Homo sapiens: one gene and its partners. The protein of the gene in region 1 purifies or fractionates together with the protein of each later gene. This does not show direct contact. Each region holds a gene or a part of one and is shown in the gene's direction. Other genes may lie near its edges.

What was found. The genes of interacting proteins can lie anywhere in the genome.
Region 2: the proteins of OTUD3 (region 1) and MIB1 purify together in Homo sapiens (affinity purification with mass spectrometry; one large-scale study listed by BioGRID and IntAct). This does not show direct contact.
Region 3: the proteins of OTUD3 (region 1) and PLS1 purify together in Homo sapiens (affinity purification with mass spectrometry; one large-scale study listed by BioGRID and IntAct). This does not show direct contact.
Region 4: the proteins of OTUD3 (region 1) and TEX264 purify together in Homo sapiens (affinity purification with western blotting, with the first as the bait; one study listed by BioGRID). This does not show direct contact.

Annotation. Positions count from the first base shown.
Region 1 is NC_000001.11:19,895,888-19,899,460, forward strand, and holds part of OTUD3 (OTU domain-containing protein 3), read left to right. Parts: intron 1-1,652; coding exon 1,653-1,775; intron 1,776-3,573.
Region 2 is NC_000018.10:21,813,770-21,817,342, forward strand, and holds part of MIB1 (E3 ubiquitin-protein ligase MIB1), read left to right. Parts: exon of another isoform or gene 1-126; coding exon of another isoform or gene 127-135; intron 136-1,846; coding exon 1,847-2,044; intron 2,045-3,573. UniProt on the Homo sapiens protein: E3 ubiquitin-protein ligase that mediates ubiquitination of Delta receptors, which act as ligands of Notch proteins.
Region 3 is NC_000003.12:142,683,371-142,686,943, forward strand, and holds part of PLS1 (plastin-1), read left to right. Parts: intron 1-635; coding exon 636-801; intron 802-882; coding exon 883-1,025; intron 1,026-2,913; coding exon 2,914-3,006; intron 3,007-3,573. UniProt on the Homo sapiens protein: Actin-bundling protein. In the inner ear, it is required for stereocilia formation. Mediates liquid packing of actin filaments that is necessary for stereocilia to grow to their proper dimensions.
Region 4 is NC_000003.12:51,674,230-51,677,802, forward strand, and holds part of TEX264 (testis-expressed protein 264), read left to right. Parts: intron 1-41; coding exon of another isoform or gene 42-75; coding exon 76-333; intron 334-3,573. UniProt on the Homo sapiens protein: Major reticulophagy (also called ER-phagy) receptor that acts independently of other candidate reticulophagy receptors to remodel subdomains of the endoplasmic reticulum into autophagosomes upon nutrient stress, which then fuse with lysosomes for endoplasmic reticulum turnover.

The DNA of each region.
Region 1 (3,573 bases):
GTAATCAGCTTGCCTTTTCCTCCATTGATGACTTTTTTCCCAAAGTTTCTTAGTTACCTAGGTAGTTGTGGAAGACATTTCTGCATAGGTAAATTTTTTTTTGAATTTATTTCTGTAGTGTTCTCTTTCATAAATTCCTGAGCATTGAAAGTACATCTTTTTAAAATAAATTTACTAATATTTCCATTGGATCCCCCTATGTCTTCCTACCCCAGTGAAGCATCTTATAAAATTTAAGAACTGAAACTGCATTGGTTGCTACTTTCATGGTTATGGGCTCTTTCATTAATAAAGAGTAGGCTTATACTCACACCATGGAGATATTGAAACCTACATTTTTTTTCTGGTTATAATTGGAATATGTGCTCCTGTGAACAATCTAGATGTATGTAACATAGAATGTGAAAGTCCTCTGTAATCTGCCCGTGAAAGTCACAGTTAACAATTTGGTGAATATTCTTCCAGTTAGGTTTTCTATTCATAATATATATATATATTATTATTATTAGGTATGTAAGTGCTTTAGGGATTATGTCAAAGATTCTAATAAACTGTTTACTTTCCCATTGCTCTTCCTGGGAGACAAATGGTGCTCTCTATTTTGTATGTGTCTAAACCAGACTCTCTGCACTTGAGATCTGCGTATTCTACTGGAAAAGCTTCCACGCTACTGACATCTAGACTTGTGTGCTTCCTGTTTGTTCCATGGTTTTTGCTTTGTCTTTAGACCATGGATACTGTTTAAAGTAAGGGCAGTATCTTACTATGTGTGATTTTCAGTAAAAAGAATGTGCTGATGTTTTGGAGTTTAAACAAAGGAACCATTACTGGGCTTTCTAAGGGACAAAGTTAGAATGAGAGTTTCTTTGGACGTGGCGAGTTTTATTTGGGGTACGCCCAGACCTTAGGGCTTCTGTACTGCACAACTCTAGGGAGCCCCATTCTTGTGCTGTGTGTCAGGGGTGTAGTTCACATAGAATACCTTGTGGGTGGCGCCTGCAGGGTTGAGCGCTACAGGCCGTACTACTTTATGTAATTTTGTTTTGAAGCTGACGTAGGTAGGAGATTTGGGTTTGTTGTTGATGTTTCTCATTTAGGTGGTTAATAGAAAATGCTATTTTCGTTTTAACGAAAGGGGTGGATTTACCTTGAAGCTAATGAAACATCAGGCCACTCATTTGTAGGACTCCCTTTCTAGGTCTTGGGAGAAGTTCTACCAGTTTTATATTTATAATTTTGCATTTTTTTTTTCCTCAAAGAGAGCCTTCAAATAGTTAGGGCTTCAAGCTCAACAAATCTGGATCTGCCCCTGGGCCTTCCCCTTGGAAGGGGCTTGTGCATTAGAGGGGCTCAGAGGTAATACAGCCTCTGAAGCTTAAGCTTATTTAACTTCATCGCAAGTCTGCCCCTGGTTTTTGAATTTCTTACATGATTTATTTCCATGGAGTTACATATTAAATAAGCATACGGAAGCATACACGCATAGGAAGGAGGTAGTTTGGAAATTGCTTGTGACATATCCCAGGTGTGTTCCCAATTAGTGTCTCATAGACCTGCTGACTGGGCTTCCTCAGCAGTCCAGGTGGGTGTTTCTCTCCAGAAGTTGATAGTGTTCAGATCCTCACTGGCATGGCCCCTTCTTTTGTCTACAGATTCGTGGTACAGAGAAAAGCAGCGTGAGGGAGTTACACATCGCATATCGGTATGGAGAGCACTACGACAGTGTTCGGAGGATCAATGACAACTCAGAGGCACCTGCACATCTCCAGACGGATGTGAGTGAGGCCTCGGATTTCTCCCGTATTCCCCGCCCTACAGGAAACAGATTGAGAGCTGTATATCTGGCGCTAAAAACCAGTAATGTTTTTGTAGAAAGTTGGCATTGAGAATCTGTGGGCCTGATTTTAAAAATATTTTTTATTTCTTAGTTTAGGTGAGAGTGATAGATAAAATTGCTTATTATTATTTTGCTTTTTCTGATAGTTGATAGTTACAATTGTATGTGTATAAGATACATGGAATTTTAAAATTATTTTTATGTTTTAAAATTAATCCACACCTTTTTTTTTTTTTTAATTGGAGATGGAGTTTCGCTCTTGTTGCCCAGGCTGGAGTGCAGTGGTGCGATCTCGGCTCACCCAACCTCCGCCTCCCGGGTTCAAGCGATTCTCCTGCCTCAGCCTCCCTAGTAGCTGGGATTACAGGCATGTGCCACCATGCCCGGCTAATTTTGTATTTTTAGTAGAGATGGGGTTTCTCCATGTTGGTCATGCTGGTCTCAAGCTCCTGACCTCAGGTGATCTGCCCACCTTGGCCTCCCAAACTGCTGGGATTACAGGGGTGAGCCACCGCACCTGGCCTAACTCATGCTTCTTATCTGAAATCTGAAAACTATAGTAAAGGTAAAGAAGAAAATAAAAAGCATGTAAAGTCAACTCAGCTACCTGAATGTAAATTTTGTTACTGTTTTGGTAGATTTCCATTAATTTAATGCATTAAAACATGGTTGACATTTTATTTATATAGCTTTGTTTCCTGTTTTTAAAAATTAACATCATTGGCCGGGCGTGGTGGCTCACACCTGTAATCCCAGCACTTTGGGAGGCCGAGGCGGGCGGATCACCTGAGGTCGGGAGTTCAAGACCAGCCTGACCAACACAGAGAAACTCCATCTCTACTAAAAATACAAAATTAGCCGGGTGTGGTGGCGCATGCCTGTAATCCCAGCTACTCGGGAGGCTGAGGCAGGAGAATCACTTGTACCTGGGAGGTGGAGGTTGCAGTGAGTCGACATAGCACCATTGCACTCCAGCCTGGGCAACAAGAGCAAAACTCCATCTCAAAAAAAAAAAAAAAATTAGCATTATTGCATAAACCTTTTTTTCCTGTTTTTACACATGATCCAAAACCATTGTTTTTTAAACAATTTTATTTATTTTTTGAGATAAGGTCTCGCTCTGTTGCTCAGGCTGGAGTGCAGTGGCACCATCACGGCTCACAGCAGGCTTGTCTACGTGGACTCCAGCGATCTTCCCACCTTGGCCTCATGAGTAACTAGGACTACAGGTGTGCGCCACCATGCTTTGTTAATTTTTTAATTTTTTGCAGAGATGAAGTTTTGCTATGTTGCCCAGGCTGCCCTCCAGCTCCTGGGCTCAAGTGATCCTCCTGCCTTGGCCTTCCAACATGTTGGGATTACAGGTGTGAGCCATGGTGCCTGGCAATTTTAATTCTTGAATAGGTCATATTTGTCCATGGATTAGAATTCAAAATATGTAATGGGATATATAGTCAAAGTCACTCTCCTACCCTTGTACTTCAGCCACACTGTTTTCCCTGGATGCAATCAGTGGTATTAGTATATCATAAAATCTCCTGTGGTTTACATACCAAGCAAATATATATATAGATGTGCACATATTCCACTTTTGCCATTTTTACTCTCCCCACCACTAGTTGTAGCATCCTACACATACTACACATCCCACACATACATCCTGCACTGTGCTTTTTAAATTTAACATGTCTTGGGATTTAATTCATGGTAGTACATAAGGAACTTCCTGTATCCTT
Region 2 (3,573 bases), on another chromosome or scaffold:
ATATGGATTGTCAGACCCCTTGCAAAACTAGGGAGTCCACCAGGGGCTGGCACAGTGGTATTGGGAATCGGAAACCACTGCTTTGGATGGAGGAAGTCTTAGAGTACCAGGATCAGGGACAGACACATGGTCTTGGTGGGTGTTAAAATTTGCAATGCAGTATTGGAATAAATGCAATACGCTTATACCTACTACCCTTTTCCATCTGCTTCTGGCAAGGCAGTGAGACTTCTTTTCATACTTTTTGGTATAAGCTATGTATACTACCTTCATGGCGCAGTGCAGGCAGTTTTTCCCCTTTATAAAGTACCTTCTTTTAGTTTTAAAAAATTTAAGCAATTTGGTCTTTCCTGCCTTCTCATTTCTTCAGAAATATGCCTGTTACAGGAGGTGAGGCAAATCTATTTGATTCTTCTGAAATAGTTTTGGAATTTTTGATATATGGAATTTTGGTAGTTTATGCTTCGTTTTTATCTTTTAATGGTGTATTTAATTTTTTTTCTGTTCTCGAATATACAGAAAAATGTATGCTCATCACTTAACCAGTTTTAATGTGTTGATAAATTGCTCCCCATTAAAGCCAGTTGAGATCACATTGTTTGGCATTCTTTTTTTTTTTTTCAATCACACAACTCATCTTAGTTTACTTTTTGTGTCATCTTTGTAGGACGTGCACGGTGGCTCACACCTATGATCCCAGCATTTTGTGAGGCTGAAGTTGGAGAATTTATTAAGGCCAGGAGTTAAAGGCTGCAGTGAGCTATGACTGCCACTGCATTCCAGCCTGGGTGACAGAACAGGACCCTGATTCTTTTTTTATTGAGAGGCAGTCTTGCTCTGTCGCTCAGGCTTGGAGTGCAGTGGCCCGATCTCAGCTCACTGCAACCTCTGCCTCCCGGATTCAAGCAGTTCTCCTCCCTCAGCCTCCCGGGTAGCTGGGATTACAGGCATGTGCCACCATGTCTGGCTAATGTTTGTAATTTTAGTAGAGACGGGTTTTCTCCGTGTTGGCCAGGCTGGTCTTGAACTCCTAACTTCAGGTGATCCGCCCGCCTTGGCCTCCCAAAGTGCTGGGATTACAGGTGTGAGCCACTGCGCCTGGCCTAGGACCCTGATTCTTTAAAAACAACAACAACAACAACAACAAAAATGGTCTTTGTAAAAATTTTTAAATGTCAAAAAAAATTGGCTTACCATCATGGCTGATAAATGAGGAATGCTGAAAGTTCAAGCTGTTGGTTTTATATATATATATATATATATATATATATATATATATATATATATAAAATTATATATAAATGTATATATATAAATAAATAAATACATATATATAAAATGATCTAAGTTTATCATTTATCTTTGGGAGTTAGTCACTGTTCAAGTCAGTTTCTAGGTTTTAAAAAATTTTTTTATAGAGACAGGGTCTCACTCTGTTGCCCCGGTCAGAGTGCAGTGGTGCGATCATAGCTCACTGTAACTTGAAACTCCTTGGCTCAAGCAATCCTCCTGTGTCAGCCTCCCAAGTAGCTGGGACTACAGGTGGGTGCCACCATGCCTGGCTCTCTCTACAAGACAGGATCTTGCTATGTTGCCCAGATTGGTATTGTTGGAAATCTTACTCACATTTACAGTTTACTTGGCCTCAAGTGATCCTTCTGCCTTGTCCTCCCAAAGTGCTGGGATTACAGGCATGAGCCACTGCACCTGGTCAAGTTCTAGTTATTTTGTTGTTTCCTACATTGCCTTTTCTCAAATTAATCTGCTTCTTGGTATATTATTATAGCTTCAAGGTTTTTTTCTTTCTAAAATATTCACTAATTCACATTTCAATACTAATGATTAGGATAAAGATGGTGATAGAGCAGTTCACCATGCAGCTTTTGGAGATGAAGGCGCTGTTATAGAAGTACTACATCGAGGTAGTGCTGATTTGAATGCTCGAAACAAGCGCCGACAGACACCACTTCATATTGCTGTCAATAAAGGTCATCTTCAAGTTGTGAAGACTTTATTGGACTTTGGCTGTCATCCCAGTCTCCAGGTAAAACCTTTAAAGAAACACATCCTGCAGGTATTGCTAGGATCCTATTAAAGGGAAACATTAAGTTCTATGGTAAGCATTCCTTTGTTACCGTTCTCATATGTCATAGTAAATGATACCAAAGGCGTAAGATGTTACAAAATTGGCAGCTATTTCTTTTTTAAAAAGTTGTTTTTTTTTAGGGAAAATGCCAATAGATTGGGTTTTGATTGGGCAGGGAGAATGAGGACTTCTTTGTAAAAATATCAGCTTATGAATGGATTTAACTTTATTGATCATGACAGTGAGCTCAACAGCTTAAAGAAGTGTAATAGGCTATATTTCATAATAGTTACTTCATAACTATTTAAATTATTTTAATTGTAGCTTTTATTGTAGCTTAGGGACTTTGAATAGTCGTTAGTGTAATCTTCGGAGATTTCTGTTTTGGAAAATGTATAGGATTTTAGAGTTGATTTACAGTAGGATCTAATTTTTGAAGCAATGATTGCCTAAGAAATGATTATCCCCAGCTACAGTTTTATAACCAGATAAATTAAACCACAAATATATAGAAAATGTAGTCTGTGTCCATTTTCTGCTTAGTTTGGTTACTAAGCAACTTGTCTTTTGTGCACCTGTTTGATTAAAGTTTCTATACTTAGTAATTTTGTAGCTCCTGAATCTAATTTGCCAACTTTTAGGTTCCTTAACCGAATAGGCTTGAAACAACATATTATTTTTAAATAAAAGTGTTCCCTGAAATACTATTTGAATATGTAAAACATAATTTGTTTCCATTGGAAACTCAATAATGATTTTTTAAAAAGTAGGGCAGTGGTTAGAATCATAAGCTGCTTGTAGTTTAGATAATTTACAGCATCCAGGAATTGGTTGCTGGATTGGATAGATCTCAGAGAAGAAATAAAGAACAGTAGTAGTGGGAATGAGGGCTTGAGAAGAACTGAAAGAATAGATTTTGTTCAGCTAGATAATTATTAGAAATTAAGGTTTTTGAAGTGCAGCTGTTTTGGAACTGTTGGGATCTAGAGTATGTCCTTGTAAGTGGGAGGCAGGATTGGAGGATGAGGGAAGAATTGGGGGGGTGTTAATCTGTAAGGAGAGGTGATTTATACCTGCTGACGTTTTTTGTCTGAAATGGGAGACAAGTTCATCTGTTGAGAGTGGTGGGTAGAGAAAGAGTAATTGAGAAGAGTGATAAGGACTTGGGGACCTGCAGAAGGGTGTTCCAATCATGTTAGAAGCCCGTTTCAGGTTGAACACTACAGATTTTTAGTGCCGCCAGATACAGGAGTAGAAGGTAGATGGTAGATGGTTGGATTGAACTTGGGTTAGGAATTCTTTTTTTTTTTTTTTTTTTTTTTTTGAGGCAGGGTCTTGCTCTGTTGCCCAGGCTGGAATTCAGTGGCGTGATCATGGCTCATTGCAGTCTCAACCTTCAGGGCCCACCTCAGCCTCCCGAGTAGCTGGGACTACAGGTGTGAGCTGCCATGCCTGGCTAATTTTTTGTAGAAATGCCCAGGTTGGTC
Region 3 (3,573 bases), on another chromosome or scaffold:
GCGGGTGCCTGTAGTCTCAGCTACTCAGGAGGCTGAGGCAGGAGAATGGCGTGAGCCCAGGAGGCGGAGCTTGCAGTGAGCCAAGATAGTGCCATTGCACTCCAGCTTGGGTGACAGAGTGAGACTCCGTCTCAAAAAAAATAAATAAAAAAGAGGATGGGCTCGGGAGACCGCTGGGATCAGACCCCGGCCTTTCCACTGTGGAAACTGTCAGTGCTGCAGTTTCCTCATCTGTAAAATCCATCTTAAGAGTTACTTTAAAATTATCTTAAAACCTAATTGTACATCATTTTTTAAAGAAGTGCTTCCAAATGAGCACTTTACAAAAATATCATGTTGAGTTTGAGGTATTGGCAGAACATCCAGGTAGACATAACCAAGTACATATATAGATACACAGCTTAGAGTGGAGACTCAGAGGAGGTCTGGGTGGAAATAGGGATTTGAAAGTCATTGGCATATAAAGTAACAGTTAAAACCATGTGTTTTTTTTTTTGAGTAGTGGTATTTTCGTTGTATAAATATTATGTTTATAAATCTGAAATTTGGCAGTCCATTGTTTCTTATAGATAATTTTTATAGATAAGACCTTAGAAAGGACTTCCTCATGTGTACTTTTTTTTTTGGCAATTCAGGAAAATTTAAACCTAGCTCTGAATTCTGCCTCAGCCATTGGTTGTACAGTGGTCAACATTGGTGCATCAGATCTCAAAGAAGGAAAACCTCACTTGGTCTTGGGACTTCTCTGGCAGATCATCAAAGTTGGCCTTTTTGCTGATATTGAGATTTCCAGGAATGAAGGTAAGATCATTAGAAATATTTGCTGTTCATTGACATGTACTTGCTATGGGAAGAATTTACATTTCGCTGTTTTGCCCTCAGCTCTGATTGCATTGTTAAATGAAGGTGAGGAACTAGAGGAGCTGATGAAGCTTTCTCCCGAGGAATTACTGCTGCGATGGGTGAACTACCATCTGACCAATGCAGGATGGCATACCATCAGCAACTTCAGCCAAGACATTAAGGTTTATATTTAAATGTTCAAATTTGTGACATGAAATAAGGATGTGCAGTGTAAAAATAAAAGGGGTTCAGACTTAAATTTGAATTAAATTCACAAGAACACTTGGGATAGAAAATGAAAATTTGCATTACTGTGTGAAGTAGATCCCCCAATTATATTCACAAAATATATATTTTCTAAAAACCAGATATATTGGCTTTTAATAAGAACTACAACTGACTGTGAGAGGAAAGAGGTGCTAGCCTCAACAGATTAAAACACACTTTCTCATTTTTTATGCCTGAGATCTGCTAGATTATAATGAGGATGTCAGTCTGTTCATTTGGACTAATAATTATATCTGTTTACTGGTTTAACACTCTTACTCCCACTTTGCCAATAACCAGCTAACAGGAAATCAGATTATCTGAGGGTACAGAGAATCAGTAAATAAAGGGGATCTTAAGGTATGTGCCTTAACCAGGGTAGCTTAAAACACTTCCCTCTCTACTGGGAGAATCTTGTCAAGGAAACTATAACAGGCATTTTTGTCTAATGACAACTTTCCCTTGGTTACTGCCTGGATGGGCATTGCCAAGCCGGGTCGCTGTGACTTTTTTCTTCTCTCTGTTTCTTTATGTCCTCCCCCATCCTGCCCCCCAAGAGTAATCAGTGCTGGCTCTAATTCATGTTCCGTCTTTAGCTATATAACCTTCAGTCAGGTTATCTTTTTCCATAATGGCCTACAGGACAGTCTCTCAATTTGAAGTGACATTTTATTTCTCTGCTTTCATCTACTATACACTGTTATATTTGAAAGTTTATTTGGGAGATTTCTCTTATTCTGAAATCTCTGAAAATTCAGCTAATCAAACATTTATTCAGCTCTTTCTGAGGGGCATTATGCCCAGGCGATGCAAAGACTCAGCTCTTGAGAAGCTTGCCAATTCTACTCAGAGACAAACATGTACCAGAGGGATATTTCAGTTATCTATTGCTATATAGCAAATTATGCAAAATTTGCTTAAATAATGATTATTTCTCATCATTTTGTGGGTTGATGCATCTTGGCTGGGTGGTTCTTCTGCTTCACATGGTTTTGGCTGGGATTACTAACTCGATTACATTCAGCTGTCAGTTGGGCTCATCTGGAAAGTACACAAAGGCCTCAGTCACATGTCTGGTGCCTCAGTGCTCCTCCACAAGGCCTCTCTACATGGTGAGCTCAGGCTTCCTCACAGCATGATAGTCTCAGATAGTTGGACTTCTTATGTAGAGGTTAACTTTAAGAGAGAGGAAGCAGAAGCTCTTAAGATTTGGGCGTGGAAGCCCCAGAACATCACTTTCACAGCATTCTCTTAGTTAACGTGAATCATAAGGCCTGTCCAAATTAAAGAGGACAGGAAATAGCTTCTGCCTTTTGGTGGGAAGAGTTAATGTATGCATGGGGAAGAACTATATATCCATCTTTGGAGACAATGACATTAGATGATTTAATAGTGTGATCACTGTTTACTTATTAAGATAGGCAAGGGGTGCTGTGCACTACAGAAGAGGGGTTCTTAGTTCATCCTAGAGAATCCAGGGAAGGCATACGGGAGATAATACTTGACCTGAATCTTAACTGATGTTGATGCTTGGGTGTGTAAACAGATGGAAAAGTAAGGGAGGGTATCCAGGTGCAGGAAACAGCATTGCTATAAACTCTGAGGTGTGAAACAGGATTGCTTTGAAGCTCTGAAGTGTGAAACAGCATGGTACATTCAGGAACCTACAAGTAATTCTTTATTTTTAAAGTTATTCCATTCTTTGAGATAGAGGCAATTTCTTCAGTTTGAGCACTTGTTTTCCCTAAATTCAATGATGATTTTATTCGTTTTAAAAATGCTATTTCATATCTTTCCTTGAAGGACTCGAGAGCCTATTTTCATCTGCTTAATCAGATTGCCCCTAAAGGTGGGGAAGATGGACCTGCCATTGCCATTGACCTTTCAGGAATTAATGTGAGTGCAATTTTTAACTTTTAAAATATATTGTGGTAAAACAGACGTAGAAAATTTACCATTTTTATCATTTTCAGTGTTCAGTTCAGTGGCATTCAGTACATTTGCATTGTTGTGCAGCTATCACCATTATCCATCTCTACAAACTTTTCATCATCCTGTAGGGAAATTCTGTACTCATTAAACAATAACTCCCCATTTTCCCCTTCCCCCAGGCCCTGGTAACTACTGTTCTACTTTTTGACTATGAATTTGAATTTCAGTAGCAGGTACAGTCAAATTTAGAGTACAGTTCTCTACAAGCAGCATTCCCCAGTAGAGCCCTCAGCCCTCCATTAAAGTTTGGTGCTTTGCTCTATGGAAGTTTTTTCCATGCCCAAGGCTCCAAGCCTCCATGTCAAGCCAACTGGCTATCATGACGGAAGAAAGGGAACTGCGTAATTGTGACCTGGAGTATTTGTGGAATCAATCCTACATTCATGTTTCCCTGGTGCAAGGCAATTGGAACTCACCAGGGTGCTCTTTTGACTGTCAGCATATGCCAGGAAAGGAAGCAACAACCTGTTG
Region 4 (3,573 bases), on another chromosome or scaffold:
AGTAGGCTACCAGCCTCCTCTCCCTTCTTTCTCCTTTGCAGCTGCCTTGAGGTGCAGTGTTGGGGATCCAGAGCCATGTCGGACCTGCTACTACTGGGCCTGATTGGGGGCCTGACTCTCTTACTGCTGCTGACGCTGCTGGCCTTTGCCGGGTACTCAGGGCTACTGGCTGGGGTGGAAGTGAGTGCTGGGTCACCCCCCATCCGCAACGTCACTGTGGCCTACAAGTTCCACATGGGGCTCTATGGTGAGACTGGGCGGCTTTTCACTGAGAGCTGCAGCATCTCTCCCAAGCTCCGCTCCATCGCTGTCTACTATGACAACCCCCACATGGTAAGGAGTCTCCATGGGGTTCTGCCCCATGGATGGGCCTGGTGGGCCAGGGCTTCTTTGGGGAGGGTAGTTTTGGTTGCTGAGGAAAGGGTGGGAGAATCTTCAAGCTGGCCCTGCAGACCCCTCCTCTATGAGCTTGAAGCACCTTCCAGATTTAGCCTGGACTTCTGCTCCCGGCATCCATTTGTGGGCTTTCTATTTGCCCAGGTCTGGTTCCCCTTGCCCATGGCTACTTGTGGATTTCCAAATGCAGTGGACTATACCACCATGAATCCCTGGCTTCTGCCAGGACTTTGGTCCCCTGCCTCCTCTTCTTGTCATCCCTCCTTCCATCTCCATTTGGGGCCAGTGCTCTAAGGCCAGGCCATTCAGATTCTGCCCACTCTTTGGGGTTACATCTTGCTGTTTCTGTGCTTTCCATCCCTCAGCTCTTCTGCCATAGTTGTAGGCCCTTGAGGGCTGAGAGGGCAGTCCCTGGGGATGGGGCTTGGAATCTTACCTCTTCAGCCATTCTGATGCCCCTCAACCTGGTGATATGGCATTTCCTTAGACCTCAAGCTGGTGCTGGGAGATGGCCAAGGGGGCTAGTGGAGCCAGATGAGTTACTTAGAATGTTCAGAATGCTGAAGTCAAAAACTAATCCAGCATCACTAGCACCCTGTGAGCGTCTGGCTGTTCTTACAACCTATGGTGAGTCAGAGCTTGCTAATGTAACCTACTGCTATGCTATGGGGTGGTGCTGCCCACAGCTGGATGGGCTGGCAGCTCTGTCAAGGGTTCTTCAGCCTCTACTACTAAGCCATGCCAAACCAAGCATTTGGAATCCCCAGCTCTGATTTCCTTGCCTGGAGAGCTCAAGTGCACAAGTCCTGCAGTCTACCCAATGTGTGCTGACCGGCTTACTGGGGCACTAGTTGAAACAGGATGTACTGGTTCCCTCTCTGTGCCAGGTTCTACTCTACACCTACACTCTGGAGATGAATCAGACCTGGCTCTGCCCTCAGGAAGCTCTGTGTGGCTGACATGTCAGCCCCACATAAGTGATTCTCCAACAAGACACTGTGCTTGATGTCCACAGAACTTTGAGCTGTAGGTTCAGGGAGGCTGCCATGAGTCTGCTGGGGAGGCTCAGAGAAGGGGTAGATTTCAGCTGGGCCTTCTCATGTAAGTAGAATTTTGCTTTGTTGGGAAGGGGTACTTGGCTAAGAAAACTGTGACAGCAAGAGCCTGAAGACATGGGATGACCAGAGAATTGTGGTTAGTAGACATGTCTTGGGTGGAGAAAGGTGGAAGGGTTTGCCCAGCCAGGTGGTGGGGAAGTACAGCAGGTTGAGAAGAAGGATGTGGCACAATTTGCCACCTTTGTTTTAGGAAGTTAGCTGAAGGGCAGGTGGAGGAGGGAAGGAGATGAGGCAGGAGGCCGTAGAAGAGATTGGGCTGGGTCCAGGTGAGAGGCGACATGGGTTGGTTGAGGTTTTGCAGTCACATGGCCAGGAGATGGCACTAACTGAAGTTGGGAGCACTGGAGCCTGAGTGGGATGGGACAGACAGTGGGCTATGGGGAGCTCCTAGAGCAGATGTGTGACCCTCACCCCTTCAAGGGCTCCGTTGTGTAAGGCCCTGCCCCCCCTTCCACACCTGGCCCAGTCAGAGCCTTCTGCAAGAAGAGTCCTTGCAGCTGGCTGTCTTCTCATTGGCGTGTCTGCCTGTTCTGGAATCAACAGGTTGCCTCTTGGGTTGGAGGTGCTAATTCCTGGATGGGAAAGGGCTAAGGCAGCAGGGTACCCTGGGGTCAGTGCTGGAGGCTGGTCTAGGGAAGAGTGAGATGGAAGAAGCCTGGCATGGGATATTCTGGCCTGGCCACTGCCTCCTGCAGCTTTCCCAGAGATGTGGTGGACCCCATGGGGTGGGCCCTGGGTCTCCAGGGTTGGTTGGTCATAGTCTGACTAGGGTGCTTGTCTGGGGGACTGTGGCCTGAGAGCACAGCCTTGAGGCTAGCAGTCCCGAGTTCTGATTCTGTCCCATCACTGTCCTGCTGAGTGATCTTAGGCATATCCCATAATGTTTCTGAGCCTCTATTTCCTTGTCTGCAGAGTAATGATAAAATACCTGCTTCATAGTAGACTGAGAAGAGTTAAGTGATATAGGTGAGGCATTTACCCCAGCACTTAGCCCTCAACAGATGCTTAACAACAACAAAGATGGGTGGGAAAACCACTTGTGCTAACATATGCTGAGAGGTCAGACTGAGCAAACCTAGACCCTTGGCCTGGCTGTGGTCATTTGGGTGGCACAGAGGATGATGAACAAGTCAAGGTGGCCCTTCTGACCCTGCCCATCCCAGTCCTGGGTCAGTCCAGAAGACACCTGTGTCCCCATTTAGAGCTAGGTCACACTTGGCACCTGGGATGGCTCAGGGACACTTGGGTCCCCATTTACTCTTGGAGCTGGTCAGTGCATTCTCTGCCTGACAGAGATTGTAACAGGTTCAGGGAACCATGGACCCCCAGGCTTCAGGTGCTCGTGGCTATCACAGACTGGTCCGGAAGGACCTGAGGCCTCCTGGTCCACACTCCATATTATGGAGGGAGAAACAGATTCAGATAGTAGGAGAAAGGCACTGATCTCATATGTTTTTGTTTTCATTTAACAAATATCTGAGCACCTGCTCTGTACCAGGCTCTGTGTTGGGCACTAGGGTACCATGGGGACCAGGACCTGCCAGTGTGTGGGTGTTAGGAGCCTAGAGGAAAGGCCCCATCCTGGTCCTGGAGTGGGCTGAGAACCAAAGGTTTTTGTCCCCTAGGCTGCCTCCACCAGCAGTGTGCAGCGTGGCATGCTCTGGTTCTCAGAGAAAGAGAATAGAGGCTGACCTGTTCAGTGTCCCACCCCCACTGTGTCCTTCCCTAGCCCAGAGTGACAGGAGCCAGAACCTGCTTCTCTGTGAGTGTGGGGAGGCAGTGAGGCTGTGTCAGGCTCTGTGAGTGGGGTGGTGAGTAACCAGGTGAGAGGTGCCACCTGGCTTTAGATGCTGCCCACCCCATGAGGTGTGACGGACAGCTCCCTAGCCATGCCTCGTCCTGTCCTCAGCTGGGCAGGGAGTAGGCTGGTCCCACCTAGGCTGGGTGTGGACCCAGGAAGTAGCACAAGAAAGGGTACCACTAAGATTGGACAGTGGCAGTTGGTGTGGACCTGTTCATAGTAGCTGCTGCTGGAGCTGTTAGCCTTGTGCCCTGGAGT